Homo sapiens: one gene and its partner. The protein of the gene in region 1 purifies or fractionates together with the protein of each later gene. This does not show direct contact. Each region holds a gene or a part of one and is shown on either strand. Other genes may lie near its edges. The genes, in order: MAP2K2 and TUBA1C.

Evidence for each region.
Region 2: the proteins of MAP2K2 (region 1) and TUBA1C purify together in Homo sapiens (affinity purification with mass spectrometry; 2 studies listed by BioGRID and IntAct, with this or other methods). This does not show direct contact.

What each region holds. Positions count from the first base shown.
Region 1 is NC_000019.10:4,089,569-4,093,163, reverse strand, and holds the end of MAP2K2 (dual specificity mitogen-activated protein kinase kinase 2), read left to right. Parts: intron 1-2,455; coding exon 2,456-2,566; 3' UTR 2,567-2,843; downstream 2,844-3,595. UniProt on the Homo sapiens protein: Catalyzes the concomitant phosphorylation of a threonine and a tyrosine residue in a Thr-Glu-Tyr sequence located in MAP kinases. Activates the ERK1 and ERK2 MAP kinases.
Region 2 is NC_000012.12:49,267,952-49,275,244, forward strand, and holds the end of TUBA1C (tubulin alpha-1C chain), read left to right. Parts: intron 1-1,513; coding exon 1,514-1,736; intron 1,737-1,876; coding exon 1,877-2,025; intron 2,026-4,301; coding exon 4,302-5,276; 3' UTR 5,277-6,649; downstream 6,650-7,293. UniProt on the Homo sapiens protein: Tubulin is the major constituent of microtubules, a cylinder consisting of laterally associated linear protofilaments composed of alpha- and beta-tubulin heterodimers.

The DNA of each region.
Region 1 (3,595 bases):
TCACTGCAACCTCCGCCTCCCAGGTTCAGGGAATTCTCCTGTCTTAGCCTCCTCAGCCTCCTAAGTAGCTGGGATTACAGGTGGCTGCCACCACGCCCAGCTAATTTTTGTATTTTTAGTAGAGATGGGGTTTCCCCGTGTTGGCCAGGCTGGTCTCGAACTCCTGACCTCAGGTGATCTGCCTGCCTCAGCCTCGCAAAGTGCTGGGATTACAGGCGTGAGCCACCGTGCCCGACCTGCCCAGCTAGTTTTTTTTATAGAGACAGGGTCTTGCTAATTGTCCAGGCTGGTCTCAAACTCCTGGGCTCAAATGATTCTCCCACCTTGGCCTCCCAGAGGGCTGGGATTACAGGTGTGAGCCACTGCACCTGGCATGTGTGACTTTTTTTCTTTTTTAATGAGGCAGGCTGGGCATTGTGGTGGGCACTTGGAATCCTAGTGCCATAGGGGGATGGCTCTCTGAGGCCAGGAGTTCAAGGCCAGCCTGGGCAACATGGTGAGACTGTGCCTCTCCAAAATAAATAAATAACTAAAAAGAGAGGGGTACTAATGTTGAAATAACTTTTTTTTTCCCTCAGACGGAGTCTTGCTCTGTTGCCCAGGCTGGAGTGCAGTGGCGCAATCTCGGCTCACTGCAAACTCCATCTTCCAGGTTCAAGCGGTTCTCCTGCCTCAGCCTCTCGAGTAGCTGGGATTACAGGCTCGTGCCACCACACCCGGCTAATTTTTGTGTTTTTAGTAGAGATGGGGTTTCACCATGTTGACCAGGCCAGTCTCGAACTTGTGATCCACCCACCTAGGTCTCCCAGAGTGCTGAGATTATAAGCATGAGCCACTGGGCCTGGCTGAAATAGCCATTTTTGAACCAGCTTCTTAAAAATGCTCCCCTGTTGGGTATCCTGGACCTAGCCAAGATGTGTCCTATCAAGTTGGTTGGTTTTTCACCCATACCTACACCGACTTTTAGGAAGATAGGCACCTTGGCCTGCCTCCAGCTGCAAAAGAGGCAGCATTCAGGGGCCCAAGGTCCTGGACACCACCCTCCTGGGAACCCCAAAGGCCTCTACTCACCCACTGTGGGGTGGCCCAGCACAGCCTCTTCCCCAAGGGCACCCGCCCTCCTCCCCCAGCCCTTCCAACCAAGAGGCTTCTCATGTTGTGCTGTCCTGTACAGGAACCGCTGGTCACACGTGGCTGTTGAAGTGTGTTCAGTGGGGCCGGGCACAGTGGCTCACACCTGTAATCCCGGTACTTTGGGAGGCCGAGGTGAGCGGATCATTTGAGGACAGGATTTCGAGACCAGCCTGGGCAACATGGAAAAACCCGGTCTCAACTAAAAATACAAAAATTAGCTGGGCATGGTAGCACGCACCTGTAATCCCAGCTACTTGGGAGGCTGAGGCGGGAGAATTGCTTGAACCTGGGAGGCAGAGGTTACAGTGAGCTGAGATCATACCACTGCACTCCAGCCTGTGCGACAGAGCAAGACTGTCTCAAAAAATAAAAATTAAGGCCAGTTGCGGTGGCTCACACCTATAATCCCAGCACTTCGGGAAGCTGAGGCAGGAGGATCATTTGAGTTCAGGAGTTCGAGACCAACCTGGCCAACATGGTGAATCCCCGTCTCTACTAAAAATACAAAAATTAGCTGGGTGTGGTGGCACATGCCTGTAATCCCAGCTACTGGGGAGGGTGAGGCAGGAGAATCGCTTGAACCCGGGAGGCGGAGGTTGCAGTGAGCTAAGATCACACCACTGCACTCCAGCCTGGGCAACAAGAGTGAAACTCCATCTAAAAAAAAAAAAAATTAAAGTAAAAGTATTTAATTAATTTGTTAAACTGAAATAAAATTGAGGCTTTTGTTCTCAAGCCATGGGAGCCACAGTCCAGGGGCTCTGGAGCCTCATGTGCTGGCGAGTGGGACGGTGCCTGTACAATGCTCTTCGCGGAGTTCTGTGGAACAGCCCGTTCTTGCCTGGGCTGTCCTGCTCCGGGGGACCCTGGCAATGGCTGAGGACATTGTGGTGTCACGACTTGGGGAAGCCCCTGGCATGGAGTGGGTGGAGGCCAGGGACGCTGCTCAGTACCCTGCAGTACCCAGGATGGCCCCACGCCAGAGAATGATCCGGCCCCGGTGTCCACAGCGGCCGGAGGACCCTGGGCTTGCGCGAGCGTAGACCCTCCCCTGGGAGCGCAGGCTGCCGTGCTGGTGGTGTCCCCGCCCCAGGTGGAGTGCAGCATCCTGAGACCCCTCCCAGGCCTGGCACACGCCGCTGCCCCTTTCTGGGTTTCTTTCCCTCTCCTACCCCGAGTGCGTCTTCCTGTGGGGAAGGGAGGGTCTCCTCTGTTTTTTGCTTTCTGTCCCGTACCATCTGCCAGGGCTGGGCAGACGCTGGCCCTCCCCGTCCTACTGTGACTCCAGGCCCGGGTGCTCACGGCTCCCCTTTCCTTGCAGAACCACACCTTCATCAAGCGGTCCGAGGTGGAAGAAGTGGATTTTGCCGGCTGGTTGTGTAAAACCCTGCGGCTGAACCAGCCCGGCACACCCACGCGCACCGCCGTGTGACAGTGGCCGGGCTCCCTGCGTCCCGCTGGTGACCTGCCCACCGTCCCTGTCCATGCCCCGCCCTTCCAGCTGAGGACAGGCTGGCGCCTCCACCCACCCTCCTGCCTCACCCCTGCGGAGAGCACCGTGGCGGGGCGACAGCGCATGCAGGAACGGGGGTCTCCTCTCCTGCCCGTCCTGGCCGGGGTGCCTCTGGGGACGGGCGACGCTGCTGTGTGTGGTCTCAGAGGCTCTGCTTCCTTAGGTTACAAAACAAAACAGGGAGAGAAAAAGCAAACCGCGCCATCCTGCTTCTTTCTTCCGTTCGGCGTTGGGTGCTGGGCTTTGCTTCAGCCCAGCACGGAGAGGACATCCCTGAGCTGACCCGCATCGCCGGGCGCCGAGGCTGGAGGGCGCAGGGCCCTCCCTTAGGGAGAGCTCGCCTCTCCCTTTGGGTCAAGGGATGAAGACCTGCAGTGAGCCCCCAGGCGATGGCGGCTCTCACCAAAAGGAAGGAGAGTGAGGCTGGGGGCGGCGGCTCATGCCTGTCATTCCAGTGCTTTGGGAGCCTAAGGCGGGAGGATCGCTTGAACCCAGGGGATTGAGGCTGCAGTGAACCTCGATGGTGCCAGTGCGCTCCGGCATGGGTGACAGAGCAAGGCTACTGAAAAAAAAGAAGGGAAATGCCACCTGGTTTCCCTCTGTGTCCTCCCCGCCACCATCTCTGCCCCTGTGGAAGGCAGAGCTTCGGCCTTCCGTGATGGAAACCACTTCCTCTACACTGCTCCTGTCACGTAGCCTCCGCGGGAAGGCCGCCCCTGCCTCTTCCCCAGCGTGGCACCATCCTCTCCCTGTCCCCCCGCTTCAGGGAGTGGGGGCTCCCAGCAGTGGCAGCTGAGCTGAGACTCAGCCCCACAGAAAGGAAGCGCTGGCTTTCCAAGCTGTCGGTTTGGTTGGAAACCCCAGCAGGTCCCGAGACACGCCCTGCACTCCCCCTGCGTCCGCAGCAGGCCCAGCCCAGGGCGGGTGGTTCTGTCACCTCTCCTCGCC
Region 2 (7,293 bases), on another chromosome or scaffold:
GTCTGTGTGTACAGATTCTATGTTTATTCCCTTATTTTACTTAGCAGGTGTGGGTTTGGTAATTTCTAACCATATTCTGCTTTGGCCCCTCTGGCCTTTCTAAATTAACTTGGTCCACCTCATAAATATATATCTATGAGAGAGAGACACACACACACAGACACAGACACAGAGTCTTGCCTCTGTTGCCCAGGCTGGAGTGCAGTGGCGAGATCTCTGCAACCGCCACCTCCTGGGTTTGGGTTCAAGTGATTCTCATGCCTCAGTCTTCCGAGTAGCTGGGACTACAGGCGCGCACCACCATGCCTGGCTAATTCTTGTATTTTTAGTAGAGATGGGGTTTCAGCATATTGGCCAGGCTGTTCTTGAACTCCTGACCTCAGATGATCCACCCACCTCGGTCTCCCAAAGTCCTGGGATTACAGGCATGAGCCACTGTGCTCTACCATAATTTTTTTTTTTTTTGTATTTTTAATAGAGACAGTTTCACCATGTTGGCCAGGCTGATTTCAAACTCCTGACCTCAAGTGATCTGCTCACCTTGGCCTCCCAAAGTGCTGGGATTACAGGTGTGAGCCAGAAACAACTAATTTCTTAACCTATCAGTAAAGTCTTGGTAACATTTCTAGCCTTTATTATTATGGTCTTCCCTCTTCCGGAGATGTTTTGACGGTGAAGGAAAAACGTTCTTCCTATAGATTAGATTCTTCCACTTGGTTAAAAAGCTGCCTCTGACCACAGTTTTTAAAATACAGCTAACTGCTGCTTATCCAGCATTTTCTTCATGAGTCATGGCTATAGTTTGCTGGTTTAAGCTGGTTTTAAAGGAGGGAGAGAGAAGCTTTTGTCTCCTAAAGAATAGGATTAAAGCGGGACCAGAATGAGCTCAGTAGTTACACAATCATTCAGAGAATGAATCAGAGCTGGAAAGGGGAATTTTGCCTTAGTTTAAGGAATCATATCTACTGTGGCTACAAAGCAACTGTCTGGTCTTGCCGAGTAGTTCATGAACACATCTTTGGTTTTCCAAGGCACTTTTGCTGAATTAGGTCTTCAAAGATTTTTGCTTTTGAAATTATAGTCCCTGAGCAGGAGTGGCCTGCTGAAAGATGGTTATCTTTTTTTGTTTGAGATGGAATATCTTGTCACTCAGGCTGGAGGGCAGTGGTGTGATCTCAGCTCACTGCAACCTCCACCTCCTGAGTTCAAGTGATTCTCCTCCCTCAGCCTCCCAAGTAGCTGGGACTACAGGTGTGCGCCATCATGCCTGGCTAATTTTTTTTGTATTTTTAGTAGAGATGCAGTTTTGCCATGTTGGCCAAGCAGATCTCAAACTCCTGACCTCAGGTGATCCACCTGCCTCAGCCTCCCAAAGTACTGGGATTACAGGTGTGAGTCACTGCGCCCAGCCAGTTATCTGTCTTGAAGGTTAATCAGTCATTAGGTGTGAATCATTCCTAAATGTCCCATCTGATGTATTATACCCTGACATTTTCCTTTCTTCCTCCCACAGCGTGAGTGCATCTCCATCCACGTTGGCCAGGCTGGTGTCCAGATTGGCAATGCCTGCTGGGAGCTCTACTGCCTGGAACACGGCATCCAGCCCGATGGCCAGATGCCAAGTGACAAGACCATTGGGGGAGGAGATGATTCCTTCAACACCTTCTTCAGTGAAACGGGTGCTGGCAAGCATGTGCCCCGGGCAGTGTTTGTAGACTTGGAACCCACAGTCATTGGTGAGTTGACCTCAGTAACCCAAGTGAGATCCCAGGGTGCTGGGACAGGAGGTCTGTCCTGGGGGGGCTCCGCTGGTCACTCACCCACTCTCCCTCCCCGCTCCTTGTCCCTCCTCCTCCTCCCCCATCATGTTCTCCAGATGAAGTTCGCACTGGCACTTACCGCCAGCTCTTCCACCCTGAGCAACTCATCACAGGCAAGGAAGATGCTGCCAATAACTATGCCCGAGGGCACTACACCATTGGCAAGGAGATCATTGACCTCGTGTTGGACCGAATTCGCAAGCTGGTAAGTATAGTACTTTAAATAAAGTGGGATGAGAGTTTCTTTTGCAGTTCTGAGACCAAACTACAGAAATCATTCTTTGCAACTAAAATGAGACTATTTGCATTGCAACTAAAATGTATCTGTTCACTAAATTAATTGGATTTCTGAACCAGATGATCTTGGATTTATGGGACAACTATGGGGTAGAAGTAAGTGCTCTTTAGCCTATTTTGCTTCAAGCTGAGACACCCCTTTTGAGGTCATCTTAGTCATACTGAGTGAGTAGGTAGCTGACTTCTACATGTAACTAATTGATCAGAGTCATTTTTTAAAAATCTGGGATGGTTCCTTCATGTCAATACAGAAAGTTCAGAGAACAAGAAGCCAGTGTCACACTGACAAGAAACAGCCAATACTGGAAACTTCCAGTACTGCTGAAAGTGGAGTCGGGAGCTTCCTTATGAAGTGTGCTGTTTGGATCACTTTAATTAAGAGCCTGGCAATCAGATGACTCTTTGCTCCTTAGGCATGTGGGCAGCTTGTAAGTAATTAACCAGAGATCAAGCATGATGGTCTGGGCAGAGTAACTTGTCAAGAAAATCACATTGTATTAAGCCCAGCCATGACTGCTCCATTCTAAAATAGAATAGCCTCATCATTCATGGCTTCATACTTTCTCAGATGTTTACGTAGTCTTCCCAGCAAAACTGGACTGATGTTTCCGATGCTTAAAAACTAAGCTTTAGGCTGGGCACGGTGGCTGACATCTGTAATCCCAGCACTGGGAGGCCAAGGTGGGCGGATCATGAGGTCAGGAGATCGAGACCATCCTGGCTAACATGGTGAAACCCTCTCTACTAAAAATACAAAAAAATTAGCCGGGCGTGGTGGTGGGCGCCTGTAGTCCTAGCTACTAGGGAGGCTGAGGCAGGAGAATGGCGTGAACACGGGAGGCGGAGCTTGCAGTGAGCCGAGATCGTGCCACTGCACTCCAGCCTGGGCGACAGAGTGAGACTCCATCTCAAAAAAACAAACAAACAAAAAAAACCCTAAGCTTTAGTTATAAGCACTGACTTGGAAAATCAGGGACCTGCCTTTAGGACAAATAAACCTAGTAGCTATTTAGGGTTCTGGAACGTGAGGTTTATTGCCTACCAAAACAATTGCATTTGTCCTTGTCATTACTGTGCTCACAGGAGGCTTAACTGGTGTAATTGGTAGGCGAGAGTCTGCCCTGTGCATTGATCTCATGTAGTTGATGGACCCACAGGCTATAAGGGAGCTGAGTAGAGAATGTTCACAAATCTGAGGCCCATCACTTGGAGAAGCAAGAGTTTACAACAGAATACTTTATTTGGAAGGTCAAAATCATTCCTTCGTAAAGTAGCAGTTTGCTAACCAAAATAGCCCAGTTAGGTGGAGGAAATCCCCAACAACCTGAGGTCTCATGGAATTGTGGTTGTGTCACTTTACCCAAAATAAATGGGCTTCTTGGTACCTAGTGTCATATATTGGCTTACTGGGCCAATACTGTGCTTACTGTGCCAAGCACTATGCTGAGTACTTACTTAATTCTCAACCTAAGGTGATTACTATTCTCACTTAATCAGTGGAAGAACTGAGAAATGAATGTGGTCATACAGTAAGGAACTGGTACAGCCGGATCCTGACACAGCCTGACTCCAGTACCAGGGTGTTAGAACTTTGGCTATTCTGTTGTTCCACCTCAGAAAGCAGCTGCCAAATCTTTACAAGACATCCACTGTACCAGGCTGGTGGTCCTGGGCCTGCCCCTTAGGACCTCTCCAACTAAGAAACTGCCCTGTTCTGTGGCCACAGCAAGAGAACCAGAGGCTGCCTTCCCAGTTACCAAAACTTGAGCCCTGTATGCAAGCCCAGGCCTTGTGATTCCTCTGCCTAAGGCAATAGTTCATCTTAAAATAGTCTTAGCAAAGGTTTTTCTGCTCAAGGACTTGATTGTGAAAAGTTGTTCTGAATCACTTAGCACTTAAAAGCTTTTTTTTTTTTTTGGAGACAGGGTCTGCTCTGTCATCCAGGCTGGAGTGCAGTGGCCTGATCATCAGTCTTGAACCCCTGGGCTCAAATGCAAATGGTCCTCCCACCTTGGACCCCCAAAGTGTTGATTACAGGCGTGAGCCACTGCGCCTGGCCCAGAAGAGTTTTAAAATTGCAATTGGAGTAGCCATAGATTTATAGAAGTCCTCTGTAGGTTTCACCAAATGTGAACACTAAATGAAACTTTCGCAACACTAAAATGAAACTTTTTTATTTTGCAGGCTGACCAGTGCACCGGTCTTCAGGGCTTCTTGGTTTTCCACAGCTTTGGTGGGGGAACTGGTTCTGGGTTCACCTCGCTGCTCATGGAACGTCTCTCAGTTGATTATGGCAAGAAGTCCAAGCTGGAGTTCTCCATTTACCCGGCGCCCCAGGTTTCCACAGCTGTAGTTGAGCCCTACAACTCCATCCTCACCACCCACACCACCCTGGAGCACTCTGATTGTGCCTTCATGGTAGACAATGAGGCCATCTATGACATCTGTCGTAGAAACCTCGATATCGAGCGCCCAACCTACACTAACCTTAACCGCCTTATTAGCCAGATTGTGTCCTCCATCACTGCTTCCCTGAGATTTGATGGAGCCCTGAATGTTGACCTGACAGAATTCCAGACCAACCTGGTGCCCTACCCCCGCATCCACTTCCCTCTGGCCACATATGCCCCTGTCATCTCTGCTGAGAAAGCCTACCACGAACAGCTTACTGTAGCAGAGATCACCAATGCTTGCTTTGAGCCAGCCAACCAGATGGTGAAATGTGACCCTCGCCATGGTAAATACATGGCTTGCTGCCTGTTATACCGTGGTGACGTGGTTCCCAAAGATGTCAATGCTGCCATTGCCACCATCAAAACCAAGCGTACCATCCAGTTTGTGGATTGGTGCCCCACTGGCTTCAAGGTTGGCATTAATTACCAGCCTCCCACTGTGGTGCCTGGCGGAGACCTGGCCAAGGTACAGAGAGCTGTGTGCATGCTGAGCAATACCACAGCTGTTGCCGAGGCCTGGGCTCGCCTGGACCACAAGTTTGACCTGATGTATGCCAAGCGTGCCTTTGTTCACTGGTACGTGGGTGAGGGGATGGAGGAAGGCGAGTTTTCAGAGGCCCGTGAGGACATGGCTGCCCTTGAGAAGGATTATGAGGAGGTTGGAGCAGATAGTGCTGACGGAGAGGATGAGGGTGAAGAGTATTAACCTGTGTGCTGTACTTTTACACTCCTTTGTCTTGGAACTGTCTTATTTTTGTTCTGTAAATGTCTATTGCCGTAAATTGTTAATAAAATTGAAGTTTCCATTTTAAATGTCGAGCTGACTTAAATACTTGATCCAGTTAAAGTTGGATGTATGAGGCTGGTAGATGAAACCACCTGAGTCGAGGGTCTTGCTCTGTCACCCAGGCTGGAGTGCAGTGGCATGATAATACATAGCTCATTGCAGCCTCGAGCTCCTGGACTCATGTGATTCTCCTGCTTCAGCCTCCTAAGTAGCTGGGGACTGCAGGTGCACACCACCATGCCCAGCTATTTTTATTTCTTGTAGAGATGGGGCCTTGCTATGCTGCCCAGGGTGGTCTTCAACTGGCTTCAAGTGATCCTCCTGCCTCAACCTCTCAAAGTTTTGATTATAGGCATGAGCCACTGCCCAGCTTCTTGGTTTATCTGTTTAATTTGGGCCTGAATTAAGTGGTTATAGAATCATTTTGTAAGTGAGGAAACGGGTTCAGATTGAGCCAGTGCTTCTCTAACTAAAATGGATGTGAATCACCTGTAGATATTAAAATGCAGGTTTGGGGTCAACCTGGTGGCTCATGCACTTCGGGAGGCCAAGTTGGGTGGATCACGAGCCCAGGAATTCGAGACCAGCCTGGGCAACATGGTGAAAACCCATCTCTACCAAAACAAAAATTTGCATGCTGTGATGGCACCTGCCTATAGGTGGGAGGACCACCTGAGCCCAAGGAGGTTGAGGTAGTGAGCCATGATTGCACCACTGCATTCCAGCCTGGGTGACGGAGACCCCTGACTCTCAAATTTAAAAACAAAATGCAGGTTCTAATTCTATAGGCTTGAGGTGAGGCTTCAGACACGTCTTAAATTTTTTTTCTTTGAGATGGTCTCTTTCCCAGGCTGCAGTGCAATGGCACCATCATAGCTCACCCCCACCTTGACCTGGGCTAAGCCATCCTCCCACCTCAGCCTCCCAAGTAGCCAGGACTACAGGTGTGTTCCACCATGCCTGGCTGATTCTTGTAATTTTTTTTTTTTTTTTTTTTTTTTTTTTTGGTAGAGATGGGGTTTTGCCATGTTGCTTAGGCTGGCCTTGAACTCCTGGGCTCAGGCAATCCTGCCTCAGCCTCCCAAAGTGCTGGGATTACAGGAGTGAGCCACTACACCTGGCCCCTAGATACGTTTTTTAATAACCTCCCAAATGATGCTGTTGGTCTGATGTGACCACATGTACAGTAGCAAAGGGTTAGATAACAGTAACTGCTGGAGCCAAAATTCAAGTGCCCAGCCACACTGCCAGAACTATTGCTGTCAGTCTTTAATAAAGTATTAGTCACACGAGAAGGGCTTGGAATCCTGATTTATTCCATACTTAGCTAAGACCTACAGTGGCAAAGATGGTTCGTACTAAAGGGGTTATTGTTTAGAGAAAGTGGAAATGTCAGACAAAATAACAGTCACCGGTTTTTCTGGTATTGGCATTTGACCCAATTGTATGTCATGGAGATTATTTGAAGTAGGAGTAATATGTATGTGTAGGAAAGATTGGAGAGGGGTGAGTTCTCTGATTTGGACTTTTTTCCAAGCACCTGTTGGAGGACCGTGGTTCTTGGGGGCAGACGGGTGAAGGGGCATGAGTGTTATACGTAGCTGGAGAGCTTGGTGCCTGGTACTCAGTTGAACTAAGCAATGGGAAAGGACAATGACCAAAAGGTGAAGCTTCATGCAGAAGGGAGGAATCAGTTTTGGTGCTTGGGTGCTTGCCTGAGTGGGAATGCCTAATGAGTGGTAGCAGATGGGCCCTGGGGGCAGAGTTGCAGGCATACTCACCTCTCCTCCGTGACTTACTTTATTCTGATGTGTACCCAGTTACCATCTCTTTCCCAAAGGTGTTTTGTATCCCTTACCCATTGCTCACTTTAGCCCCTTTGCTCTGAGAATTGCATCTGAAAGATGTGCATGTTTAAGGCCAGCGCTGGGGTTCA